Regions from separate parts of the Homo sapiens genome. Here all the other regions are linked to region 1. The links come from fine-mapping of genetic effects on gene expression. A gene starts in region 1. Each other region holds a variant in brackets. All regions are shown on one strand. Distances are between the middles of the regions. Region 1 holds the start of TXN2 (thioredoxin 2). Region 2 holds the start of MYH9 (myosin heavy chain 9). Region 3 overlaps EIF3D (eukaryotic translation initiation factor 3 subunit D).

Region 1 (4,164 bases):
GAGTAGCTGGGATTACAGGCACACACCACCACGCCTAGCTAATTTTGTATTTTTAATAGAGACAGGGTATCACCATGTTGGCCAGGCTGGTCTTGAACTCCTGACCTCAGGTGATCTGCCCGCCTTGGCCTCCCAAAGTGCTGGGATTACAGGCATGAGCCACCGCACCCGGCCGACACTGATAACTTTTTGCCAGCCCTTCTTGCGGTTTTCATGGCAGGATGTTAACATCAGCTTATCTGCAGGGCCAGGAACTGGTATACACCAAAAGCAAGGTGACAGTCATATTTTTCCAACTCTGGTCCATGCTAAAGATGACGCTGAGCTTTCTGGGGATTGAGAAACAGAACATGTGTTTCCCAGCACTAACAGTCAGCTTTGCAGACTGTTCACTTGTCTGTCTTCCACCAGACTGCATTCCCCTTGAGGGCAGGGACTGGGCCTGACCAGTCTGTATATTGAGTCTACATATGAGCAGCATAGAACATGGCCGTGGGACACAGCAGGCATTCAATAAATACTTGAACAAGTAGGACCCTAGTCTTCTGTGGACCCCCAATACTCACTGTGCGTGGAAATCCACAACCACTGGTGTCTCACTGTTGACCACTCGGTCTTGAAAGTCAGGTCCATCCTGGATATTAAAGGTTGTCAAGGAGATCCTCGTGGTGTATATTGTCCGGGCTGGGTTGGGTGTTACAGTCAGGCCACCAGGACTGCATTGTGGGGTCTGCAGGGCTCTGGAAGTGAGGGGTGGCCACTGACCCTGAGAGGGCTTCCTGGAGATGACAGAGGCCAGGAACCTCCTCAGAAGAAGTCGCTGAGCCATCTGTGAGGGAAAGAGGCAGAAGAACTGGGGCACACAAAAGGAAGTCGACACACTAGAAAAAGATTTGGGGAGTACTCAGGGCTCAGGAAGAGGCAGAGTTGGAAGCAAAATGCAAGGAAATCATATGTAAGATTTGTAGCGTGGAAGTGAGGAAGCAATGAGAATCAAAGGGAAGGAACAGCTAGGCAAACCAGAAGGACAGGAAAACTGGCTTCACAACCAAAAAGAAATCGGGATTTAGATTATAACGGAAGAATGGGAGGAAGAAACCAACAGATTTAATAATGTATGTAAGGACCAAGTACCTTACACACATTATTGGTCTTCCTACAGCAACTTCCAGGAAGTTGCTATTGTACTGCCCACACTGCGAGTAAGGGAAGGAATACGAGGCTCAAGTAAGTTAAGTGACATGCCCAAAGTAACCCCGCTATTAAATGACAGCCAACACTGGAACCCAGGGTCGTCTGAAAAGATGAAACGCAACAATTCAAGGAGGAACTAAGAGTGTGAGAGGAACCAAAAACGAAGAGACATGTACTGGAGGGAACCAATAAAGAAGGGACATGTGTGGAGGGAACTGGGAAAAATCGGACATCACCAGGGACCCTGGCTCTCCGGCGAGCTAGATCCCCCCGCCCGCCCGGCCGCCAGCCTGCGCAGGAACGCGCTCGCGGCATGCCTCAGCCGCGACACCACCTCGAGCCACCCCCACAGGGCTCCTACCTCCCTGCAATGCGAGCGGAGGGATGCACAGCCTAGCCCTCCCTGCCTGTCAAGGGCACGCCTGTCGTCACTTCCTCGGGGGGGGACGTACATAACGTCACTTCCGGGTACAGGCAGGCGGAAGAGCGTCCCTCTCCAATTTTTTTTTTTTTTTTTTTTTTTTTTGAGCCAGAGTCTCGCTCTGTTGCCAGGCTGGGGTGCAGTGGCGCGATCTCGGCTCACTGCAACCTCCGCCTTCCGGGTTCAAGCGATTCTCCTGCCTCAGCCTCCCGACTAGAGGCGCGCGCCACCACGCCCAGCTAATTTTTTTATTTTTAGTAGAGACGGGGTTTCACCACGTTGGCCAGGACGGTCTCGATCTTTTGACCTCGTGATCCGCCCGCCTCGGCTTCTCAGAGGGTTGTGATTACGGGCGTGAGCCACAGCGCCCATCTGTCCCTCTCCAATTTGAGGGGCGTCTGGGATTTTCCGCCAATGGGAATGGCGGGCTGAGGCACAGTTGAAGGGGCGGGGCCTCAGCTACGGACCGGAAGCAATGGGCAGGCCGTCGGGGAACGGATTGGAAGAGGCGGGCGGGCCCTGGTCTGGGCGAAGGCGGGGGCGGGGCGGGGCGGAAACGGAAGGGGTGGGCGGGCCCTAGAGGAGGGACCGGAAGAGGAGGTGATGGAGCAGGGGTAGCAATGGAGGGTACTTAAGGGAGAAAAGGCAGTTGAGAAGTCCCCGTGGTTTTGGATTTTGCAAACTCTTGTTGCTTTATTTTATTTACATATATTTATTTATTAATGACAGAGTCTCGCTCTGTCTCCCAGGCTACAGTGCAGTGGCGTGATCTCCGCTCACTGCAACATCCAAATCCCGGGTTCAAGTGATTTTCCTGCCTCAGCCTCCCAGGTAGCTGGGATTACAGGCGCGCGCCACCACGCCGGGCTGATTTTTGTATTTTTAGTAGAGACGGAGTTTCGCCATGTTGGCCAGGCTGGTCTGGAACTCCTGAGCTCAAGTGATCCGCCCGCTTCAGCCTCCCAAAGTGCTGGGATTACAGGCGTGAGCCACCTTGCCTGGCCTCCTGTTTATAACTGGCGCTGTCCACTTCCTACAGATGTTGACAGGTTCTGTTTCTCCATTTAATATGTAAAGCTAAGCTCCTCAAAGGCATGATGCCCTTTATATGTAAAAGAACTCAACCGGGAGTTTAGGGGCCATCCTTTAAGTGGCCCTCGTCTGTGTCCGCCTAAAGGAAAACAAATGAAAACTGAGGCGAGCCTAATTTAAGCAGGGAGTTTTTTTGGGTCAAGTTCGAAGACTGCAACTCGGAGCAGAGATTCAAGTTGTCCTGAATATACACTCGGATTAGCAGCAGCTGAAAGAGCGTTTTTAAAAGAACAGGCAGTTTCCAAATTGTTGATCAAAGTTTTTTTTTTTTTTTTTTTTTTTTTTGAGACAGAGTCTCGCTCTTGTTGCCCAGGCTGGAGTGCAGTGGCGCGATCTCGGCTCACTGCAACCTCTGCCTCCTGGGTTCAAGGGATTCTTCTCCCTCTGCCTCCCCAGTAGCTGGGACTACAGGCGTGCCTCACCACGCCTAGCTAATTTTTATATTTTTAGTAGAGACGGAGTTTCACCATGTTGGCTAGGATGGTCTCGATCTATTGACCTCATGATCTGCCCACCTGGGCCTCCCAAAGTGCTGGAATTACAGGCGTGAGCCACTGCACCCAGCCTTTTTTTTTTTTTTTTTGAGACGGAGTCTTGCTCTGTAGCTAGGCTGGAGTGCAGTGGCATGATCTTGGCTCACCGCAACCTCCACCTCCAGGGTTCAAGGGATTCTCCTGCCTCAGCCCCCCAAGTACTTGGGATTACAGGCGAGCACCACCACACCTGGCTAATTTTTTATATTTTTGGTACAGAAATTTTATATTTCACCATGTTGGCCAGGCTGGTCTCGAACTCCTGACCTTAAGTTATCGCTCGCCTCGGCTTCCCAAAGTGCTGGGATAACAGGCGTGAGCCACCGCGCCTGGCCGCCCTGCCCATTTTTGTATCGGTTTTCTGTGTCTCTAGCACTTTCTTTTCCACAGCCACCTATCAATCCTATTCAGCACTTCCACAGTATTTTCTAGAGAGCCAATTTTCCTGCCTAATTCACATTCTGAATTTCACAGGCGGACCAGTCCTGTTTGTCCTTATGCCATAGTCACTTCACCCTGATCGGCCTCAGGCTTCTCATCTGAGCAATGGGAAGAATGCCTTTCTCATAGCTGGGCTGAGGGTTGCAGTAGAGACAGAATCCACATCATTGCTGCCTGATGACTCCTGCAGGGAAAGCCTGAGAGACACAGAGAAGGCTGAGCTCTCGGCGCGCTACAAAAGGGCTCTCAGCTACATGGTGGCTCCTCTGTCCAGCTAGAGCTGAGCTGGCCTGGGTCTGGCTTAGTCACAAGCAGGCTCAGGGCACAGCTGAGAGGCAAAGGGAAGGAAGCCAGGACTGGCAGCCTGGGCTAAGGGTAAAACTTCTACCTCCTACCAATATTTATTGCAGTGTTTTTCAAACTGCAGGATATGGACGTCAGTGGGTTTGCAAAATTAATTTAGTGGGTGGTGATCTGCTTTTT
Region 2 (4,164 bases), 96 kb before region 1:
AAAAGTGGGCGAGGGGGTGCTGGGTGTGGTGGCTCACGCCTGTAATCCTAGCACTCTGGGAGGTCGAGGCCGGTGGATCGCTTGAGGTCAGAAGTTCCAGACCAGCGTGGTCAACATGGCAAAATCCCATCTCTACTAAAAATACAAAAATTAGCCAAGTATGGTGGCAGGCACCTGTAATCCCAGCTACTCGGGAGACTGAGGCAGAAGAATCGCTTAAACCTTGGGGGCAGAGGTTGCAGTGAGCTGAGATTGTGCCACTGCACTCTAGCCTGGGCGAGAGTGAGACTCATCTCAAAAAACAAACAAACAAACAAAAACCATATATGAGCCGGGCACGGTGGCTCACACCTGTAATCTCAGCACTGTGGGAGGCCGAGATGGGCAGATCACCTGAGGTCAGGAGTTCGAGATCAGCCTGGCCAACATGGTGAAACCTCATCTCAACTACAGATATAAAAACTAGTGGGGTGTGGTGGTGGGCACCTGTAATCCCAGCTACTCGGGAGGCTGAGGCAGGAGAATTGCTTGAACCCAGGAGGAAGAGGTTGCAGCAAGCTGAGGTCACGCCATTGCACTCTAGCCTGGGCGACAGAGCAAGACTCTGTCTCAAAAAAAAAAAAAAAAAAAAAAAAAAAAAATATATATATATATATATATATATATATATATATATATATACAGCCACTACATATTAGGCCATGTACATACCTTATTTCTTTCAGTTCATGCATCTAACCCCACAGGGTAGGATCTTGATTCCCATATTATACATAAGCACATCCAAGCTGTGAGGCTATGTGACTTGCCTAAGGTCACAAAGCTATTAAGTAGCATGGTCAGGATTTGAACTCGGCCTGTTTCCAAAGCTCACGTTCTTTCCACTACCCCACTCTTCCCAGCTCTAAGAGTGGGATTCAGTAAGCCACAGCAGCAGCACTGCCAGGGCTCCATTCTTTTGTCAGCAGAGGACTCCAGCCCAGGGTCTCAGCACACCAAGGGTTAAGGCTGAGAGGCAGTGACTCTCTGGGGCTGCACAAAGGGAAATGCACTTCCTGCCCCAGCAGGCAGAGATGCTGTTTTATGCTCAGTAAATTAGGACGTTTGTTTAATTACGACGACACACAGATTTTGTTATTCTAAATATTTTTGGAACATGATGCTTGGGAGGAAGCTGTCAAGGCACGGGTTTTTTTTTTTCTCTCTCTCTCTTTTTCCTTTGCTTTGGGTTTCTCTTTCTCCCCCTCCAAGAGAAGGGTAGGGCCAGGCTCAGAGGAAAACAACAGCCAACCCCTCCTCTCCTTTTGAAATAAAGATGTCAAGCTGGTAAGGGCTGTCTTAAGTACTTTATTGAAGAATTAGCTAGAAGAGGAAGTAAAGGAAGAACAGCCAGCCTGGTTTCTAGCAATACCCTACCAGGCTACACAACAATGCTGCATTTTTTTAGTGTGTTTTTCTTCTTTTAAAGAGCTAACAGATCCTTGTTTTGTTTTTTCTGGAGCAAGAGCGGGCAAAAGGCAGGCTGTGATTAACATGCGTCCTTCATCCTACGAGAGAGAAGTTGTCCCATCTCCAACCCCTTAGGTTAAAAAGTTTAAAAATAAAAGCAAGAAAGCCAGGGCCCTCCCTCTCCTCTACCCTCCTGAACCTTTCAGATGAACAGCCTCACCGAATGCTGCCCTTCTCTCCGGGGCTGGGGAGCTCCCCAGAGCCTGCCAATGCCGGCTCTCCAGACACCTGGCTCTGCCCACCTGCGCTGCCAGGGTTTGCTGAGTGTGGAGACTGAAGTTCTTTGGTGTCACCCCACAGTCATCCAGAGCGCAGTGGCTCTCAAATTACACTGAGCAATCTCTCCATGTTTTTAATTACCCCCCAATTATCCACTAAGTGGCTCCTCACTTTCCAACACCGCATGCTTGCCTCAGTTTGCCAAACCTGCAATGTGCTTCTCCCTTGTAGCAGCCTCCTCCTTGCCCAAGAGAAGTGGCCCCTCTCAGCCTTGAAATTCCTGAGTCCTTTGTCTATGGCATACTTGGGACACACATCACAGGCTGCCTTTGTATTTCACTGGTTCTGCCACTTTCCCCTTGAGGACTGTAAACTCCCCAAGGGCAGAGGCAGGGCCCCGGGGATTTCACAGGGCAGTCTGGCTCCCTTCTCCCAATCCCCATGACTCACAGTACC[T/C]TTCCGGGGTCCCTGTCATCTCTACCTCACGTTAGACTCATCTACAGATTTGTCTCAGTTCTCCCCTAAGTGCCCATGGGCACGGGCCAGGTCTTACTCAACCTCCCACCCCCCCACCACCTGGCAGAGTCCCTGGCACAGAGAGGGCAGTTAAATATTTGCTCAATTACACATCTGTGTCCCCTTCCCCCACACATAGCAGCCTTGTATATAAACTGACTATTATTAATTGAGTGATTGTCTCAAAAGGCCTCCCTCCTTACCAAAAAGGGACTCCTAAGCCATCAGGTGAGCCAAACACTGGCCCAGACAGTGTAGTTAGAATGGCCACAGTGCTGCGCTGCACGGAGAAGGAGCTAAGGCTCTCTTCCCTTTCCACGGTTACTCATCAGTCACTTTGAAATCCTGTTAAACCCAGAAAAGGGCGCAGTGAACCGAGAAGTGGCTGGGCCTCTCAACTGCCCGGTGGAGACAGCCGCCTGCCTCTACGACCTGGGACTTCCCAAGGAGTCTTCTCTCCACACCGGCTGGGTGGGGCCGTGCGCTCACCCTGCCCCCCACCACAGGACAGCCGGCAAGCTAGTGCTGGGGGTGCTGAGTCTCAGTTTGAAACAGCGGGGCTTCCCTGGAGAATGAGGGTGCCGCAGTCCTGTCTCCTGTGCGTGGCCCCAGAACAGGATGGGGTGAGGACCCCAGCACAGGGAAGCGGGTGCGTGGAGTGGAGAATAGAAAACTCCGATTTGGCTCAAACAGGAAAGATGCAATCGCCCAGGCCTGCTCGTAACGGCAGAGCTAGCTGCCCCCGCACCCCGCCCAGACGGGATGGCCCCTGGGTGCGGTGGAATCAGGTGCACGCCTGGGCGGCCCCGACGGCTGCTGCATTCCGGGCCTCCCTCCCCCGAGGATCAGAAGTCGGAGGTCGAGGGCTGGAGCAGGGACTGGGGGTGGCCCTTCCTGTCTCGCGCCCGGGTCCCCGCCGGGTCCCCCTTGTCCGGGCAGCCGCCGCACCTCCCCCGGGCCCTCCCCGACCAGTCCGACGGCAGCGGGCGAATGAGGAAGTCGGCCGCGGAGGCGGAAACCGGGCCGGGTGCAAGGTCTGCAGCGGGACGGTCCGACTCTGACTCAGGAGGACGCCCTGACAGCTGCCAAACGGTGCCCGCTGCCCGTTACCTCCGTGCCTCAGACGCCAGAAACTTCCACGGGAGCGGCTGCCCCGGGCTCCCAACCCGTGAGGCTGCGTCCCAGGGGCCGCGGCTCCCGGAAGGGGTTAAAAAGTTTGCCCGAGTCGGGCCTGGGCGAGGCGAGGGCGGGGCGCGTGCCCCAGCGGCTGGGGGAGGTCGGCTCCAGTGCCCAGTCCTGAGACCGCGCCGGGGGACACGGGGGGCGCCGGGGAGCGCCGGGTCCCGAGGCCGCCCCTGCACCCCTAGGCCTCGCTGCTGCCGGCGCCCTCCCCGAGCGCCCGCGTGGGGGTCCCGGTCCCCCTGGGAAGGATGCGGTGCCGGGCCCTGAGCCGCCGGCGTTCGCCCCCGCCCGCGCGGGTGGCGGGCCGCACTGAGCCCAAGAACCACCAGTCGGCCTGGCGGCAGCGCGTCTCGCCCCCGCCCGCCCGCCGCCGCCTGCCCGGGGCGGGACCGCGGTGGGGCTCGCTCACCTGAACCTGGATCTGCCCCGGGAACAGGCGCTGCTTCTCCCGAGAGGACTTTCTCGAGCGCTCGGGCGGCGGCCGGGTGGGGCGAGCGCACGAGGCGGGAGCTGCAGCAGGTCAGCCTTGCTTAGCCTTCCGTGCCCTGCCCAGGAACCGCGGTGATCTGCGCGCCTCACCGCACCCAGCTCGGCTCCTCGCCGCCTTCCCGCCCCGCCCTCGGAGCCGCGGGACCATTCCCAGCCGGGAGCCGGCTCCGGGGCGGAGCCTGGGGCACAATCCCGCCCCCTTCCTGCTACACCCACTGCAGGCCGCGCCTGGCCTTGATGGGCAGACGT
Region 3 (4,164 bases), 28 kb after region 1:
ACCTACCAAAGAATGTCATTTACTTTTTCTTTTTTTTTTTTTTTTGAGATGGAGTCTCACTCTGTCGCCCAGGCTGGAGTGCAGTGGCGTGATCTCGGCTCACTGCAAGCTCCACCTCCCAGGTTCACGCCATTTTTCTGCCCCAGCCTCCCTAGTAGCTGGGACTACAGGTGCCCGCCACCACACCCGGCTAATTTTTTGTATTTTTAGTAGAGACAGGGTTTCACTGTGTTAGCCAGGATGGTCTCGATCTCCTGACCTCGTGATCCGCCCGCCTCGGCCTCCCAAAGTGCTGGGATTACAGGCGTGAGCCACCGCGCCTGGCCGAATGTCATTTACTTTCTTCAGTCTGTGTCAACATCAGAGAAAAGCTCCCTCAGAGCAGAAATTGTCCAGTATCTGACATACGGAAGTTTAAGCATTTGTTGAATAAGCATTGCAACCAGAGAGGTCAGGCAGAATACTTTGCCAAAAATAAAGTAGGGATGTCTTATTTCTTCTTTTTGAGACAGAGTCTCACTGTCACCCAGGCTGGAGTGCAGTGACACAATCATGGCTCACTGCAGCCCTGACCTTCCAGGCTCAAGCGATCCTGCTTCAGCCTCCCAAAGTGCTAGGGATTACAAGTGTGTGCCATGGCCCCTGGCCAATTTTTCAAAAAAATTTTTGGGGGCATATGTGTATATATTTATGGGGCATATGAGATGTTTTGATAGTCATGCAATTTGGGGATGTCTGTTTCTTAGTGGTTGTGAAGATTATGAGAATGGGTGCTGGCAAACAAGTTCCTAAAATAATTGCTGGTCTTATGTGGTGAATACAGTAGTGGGAAATTAAACAGAATTCGTCAAGTATGGTAGGGCCCTACGAGTAGGCTGAACCTAGATTGTAAGCAACAGGATGCTACTGGGAGTTTCTGAATGTAGGATTACTGCAGCAGTCAACTTGGTAGCCCCATGCAGGACAGATAAAAGCAGTGGACAGCTACTCGGGAGGCTGAGGCAGGAGAATGGCGTGAACCCAGGAGGCGGAGCTTACAGTGCCTGAGATTGCGCCACTGCACTCCAGCCTGGGCAACAGAGCAAGACTCCGTCTCAAAAAAAAAAAAAAAAAAAAAAAAGGCAGTGGAAACTGATGCAAAGTATTTTCAGGGAATGAGCTTGAGTCACTTCCACTTGCTTCTGTTAATCCTGTTGGACAGGGCCATGGTTTGCAAGAGGCAATTTGGTGAATACTGGTCCAACCTGGAAACCCCCGGCACTAGTCACACCACTTTAATCTGTTTTTTAACACTCTGTATTCACATTGAAAACTCCCCAAGTACACTTTTTCTCTCCACTGCTTCTAACACAGTTCAAGAAACCTTTTGCTTGCTGAGGTTCGATTCATTAAAATTAATTTTGTGTTTTTTCAAGCTACTTTAAAAAAAAAACCTGTAACTTTAGAAATGCTGAGCTTTTTTTGAGAGTCTCTGTAATCCAAATTGGAGTGCAGTGGTGTGATCTCAGTTCACTGCAACCTCCGCCTCCTGGGTTCGAGTGAATCTCCAGCCTCAGCCTCCCAAGTAGCTGGAATTACAGGCGTGTGCCACCATGCCTGGCTGTTTTGTATTTTTAGTAGAGACGGGGTTTTGCTATGTTGCTCAGGCTGGTTTTGAACTCCTGACCTCAAGTGATCCACCCACCTCGGCCTCCCAAAGTGCTGGGATTACAGGCATGAGCCACTGCACCTGGCCTTTTTTTTTTTGATAAAGGGTCTCCTTCTGTCACTTAGGCTGGAGTGCAGTGGT[G/A]TGATCATAGCTCACTGCAGCCTTGAACTCCTGGGCTCAAGCAATCCTCCCACCTCAGCCTCCTGAGTAGCTGGGACCACAGGTGGAAGCATCATGACTGGCTAATAATTTATTTTTTTGCAGAGACAGGCCCTGGTCTCCCTGTGTTGCCCAGGCTGGTCTCAAACTTCTAGGCTAAAGTGATCCTTCTGCCTCAGCCTCTCAAAGTGTTGGGATTAGAGGTTTGAGCCACCATGCCTGTTTCCTCACCTCTACAATGGTACTACTCCTGCCAGCATCACAGTTCTGTATGAGGCTTAGATACTACAGAAAGCTCAGCATTAATACCTGGCAGGGTAATTACTCCATCAAGTGTCCAGAACAGAACAGTGTCCACTTACATAGTTTACATAGCCTCGGCTGGGTGCGGTGGCTCACGCCTGTAATCTCAGCACTTTGGGAGGCCAAGGCGGGTAGATCACCTGAGGTCAGGAGTTCGAGACCATCCTGACCCATATGGCGAAACCCCGTCTCTACTAAAAATACAAAAATTAGCCAGGCATGGTGGTGCATGCCTGTAATCCCAGCTACTGGGGGGCTGAGGCAGGAGGATCGCTTGAACCTGGGAGGTGGAGGTTGCAGTGAGCCGAGATCATGCTACTGCACTCCAGCCTGGGCAACAAAGTGAGATTCCGTCTCAAAAAAAAAAAAAAAAAAAAAAAAAGTTTACATATCCTCAACATGCAGAGCTCTTATGACACAATGCTTTGTAGGGACAGGCCTGAGTGTCACCAGCCCAAGCCAAGCTTAAAAACAATTCATAAACCATTACACAATCACCCAGTGGGACATCCATCAAGCTCTCTGTGGCAGCCTCCCTCAGGCGCAGCAGCCCCACCTCACCCACACCCTGCTTCACGCTGTACTAGTGCTCTGCACTCCAGCTCCTCACAGTGAACTCTCCAAAAGCAACAGGTGGCCCTTCACACAGCCAGCAGGCACTCATGCTTGTGGAAATGGACTTCTTATAACAAATGAGGACACCCAGATTCTGAATTCCACATAGAAATTGCTGAATCTCATCCCCACTCTGTCAGGAATCTTTGAAGAAACGACTGTAAATCGTTAATGCAGGCAGACGATGAGGGAAAGACTAAACAGATATATATTTTATTTCATCTGCTAAATGTCAGAGAGCAAGTTAGACACACATTCCACTAAGCATCAAAGGCCCTCGTAGTCTCGGTGGAAGGACAAACTCCAGCTCCACATCACTGGTTTAAGTTTCTTCCTCTGAAAGACACAAAAAATGTAAGAGAAATGAGCCAGGTTGTGTGATATGATGTTCACTTTCCTTTCTGAACCTCTGCTGGACTGTGCGTGAGTTTTCAACACTTCCATTCCGAAGTTAAGCCTTTCAGATGCTCACAGGGCTGGGCAGGTATTTCCTTCAGTCACCAGCTGGTGGAGCAGGAGAGACAACTTTCAGGCTATTTAACCCGGAGCGGAGCTTTTCCCTCTAGACCACCGGCTTCAATCTGGGACTTCCCTCATCTTCCTCTACCTCTGCCACAGTCCAGCCGCTTCTCTAAAACACCGCTATCCTCCCCAACCACTTGATGTGATCTAAAGGCTCTAGAAGAAGCTCTTGGAGCCAAAGTGAATGCTTCTTCATACTTAAGTCTCAGGGAATTCTCGAAGTTTTATCAAGGTTAAAGATCACAATGGCTACAGAGCTTGCTCCCGTGCTAGCCCACAGATCACTCTAGACCTCAGAAAGTGGGCTGCTACACACCTTCTTCTTCCTCTTCTTCCTCCTCCTCTTCCTCCTCATCTTCATCAGAGCTGAAGGTGCCATCAGGGAGGCTGTAGACACGGATGACCTGCTTGTTGGGGTCCTTGAGGATGAGGTATTTGCCCTCCTCCAGCTTCATGCAGATGTCAATGACGCAGCGTAAAATGCCCCAGGCATTCTCCACGCTCAGGTTGATCTGGCTGGCAAACTCATTAGGCTTGAACTGCTGGGTGCCTAGGATGACGTGGCGTGAGGAGTCTTTCACGTGGTACCGAGACACATAACTAACAGGGGAAGGGATATCAGTGGTCAGAGCAGGGCAGCACAGAGACAGCAACACTTGGGATCAAATGTCAATTAAATGGTGATACCTGGTCCACTGCTATTTTTTCTTTTTTTTTTTTTTGAGACGGAGTCTGGCTCTGTTGCCCAGGCTGGAGTGCAGTGGCGCCATCTTGGCTCACTGCAAGCTCCGCCTCCCGGGTTCACACCATTCTCCTGCCTCAGCCCCCTGAGTAGCTGGGGCTACAGGCGCCCGCCACTACGCCCGGCTAATTTTTTGTATTTTTAGTTGAGACAGGGTTTCATCGTGTTAGCCAGG

The links.
Region 2: its variant is fine-mapped to the expression of TXN2 in whole blood (TOPMed, PIP 0.91).
Region 3: its variant is fine-mapped to the expression of TXN2 in whole blood (INTERVAL, PIP 0.99).

What each region holds. Positions count from the first base shown.
Region 1 is chr22:36,480,009-36,484,172 of GRCh38, forward strand. TXN2 (thioredoxin 2) reads right to left here and starts at 1,632. Exons shown (of 4, transcript NM_012473.4): 1 at 1,556-1,632; 2 at 567-829. The coding sequence starts at 829. RefSeq lists an enhancer at 2,062-3,008.
Region 2 is chr22:36,383,972-36,388,135 of GRCh38, forward strand. MYH9 (myosin heavy chain 9) reads right to left here and starts at 3,996. Exons shown (of 41, transcript NM_002473.6): 1 at 3,836-3,996. RefSeq lists enhancers at 1,155-1,868, 1,640-1,829, 1,869-2,582, 2,340-2,389, 4,013-4,164 and silencers at 3,020-3,249, 3,530-3,609, 3,640-4,164. The variant T/C (reference allele first, on the strand shown) is at 2,185.
Region 3 is chr22:36,507,940-36,512,103 of GRCh38, forward strand. EIF3D (eukaryotic translation initiation factor 3 subunit D) reads right to left here. Exons shown (of 15, transcript NM_003753.4): 14 at 3,564-3,847; 15 at 2,916-3,061. The coding sequence ends at 3,048. Among named protein-coding and RNA genes, the nearest start is that of FOXRED2, 3.0 kb to the left of the region's middle. RefSeq lists an enhancer at 3,405-3,484. The variant G/A (reference allele first, on the strand shown) is at 1,790.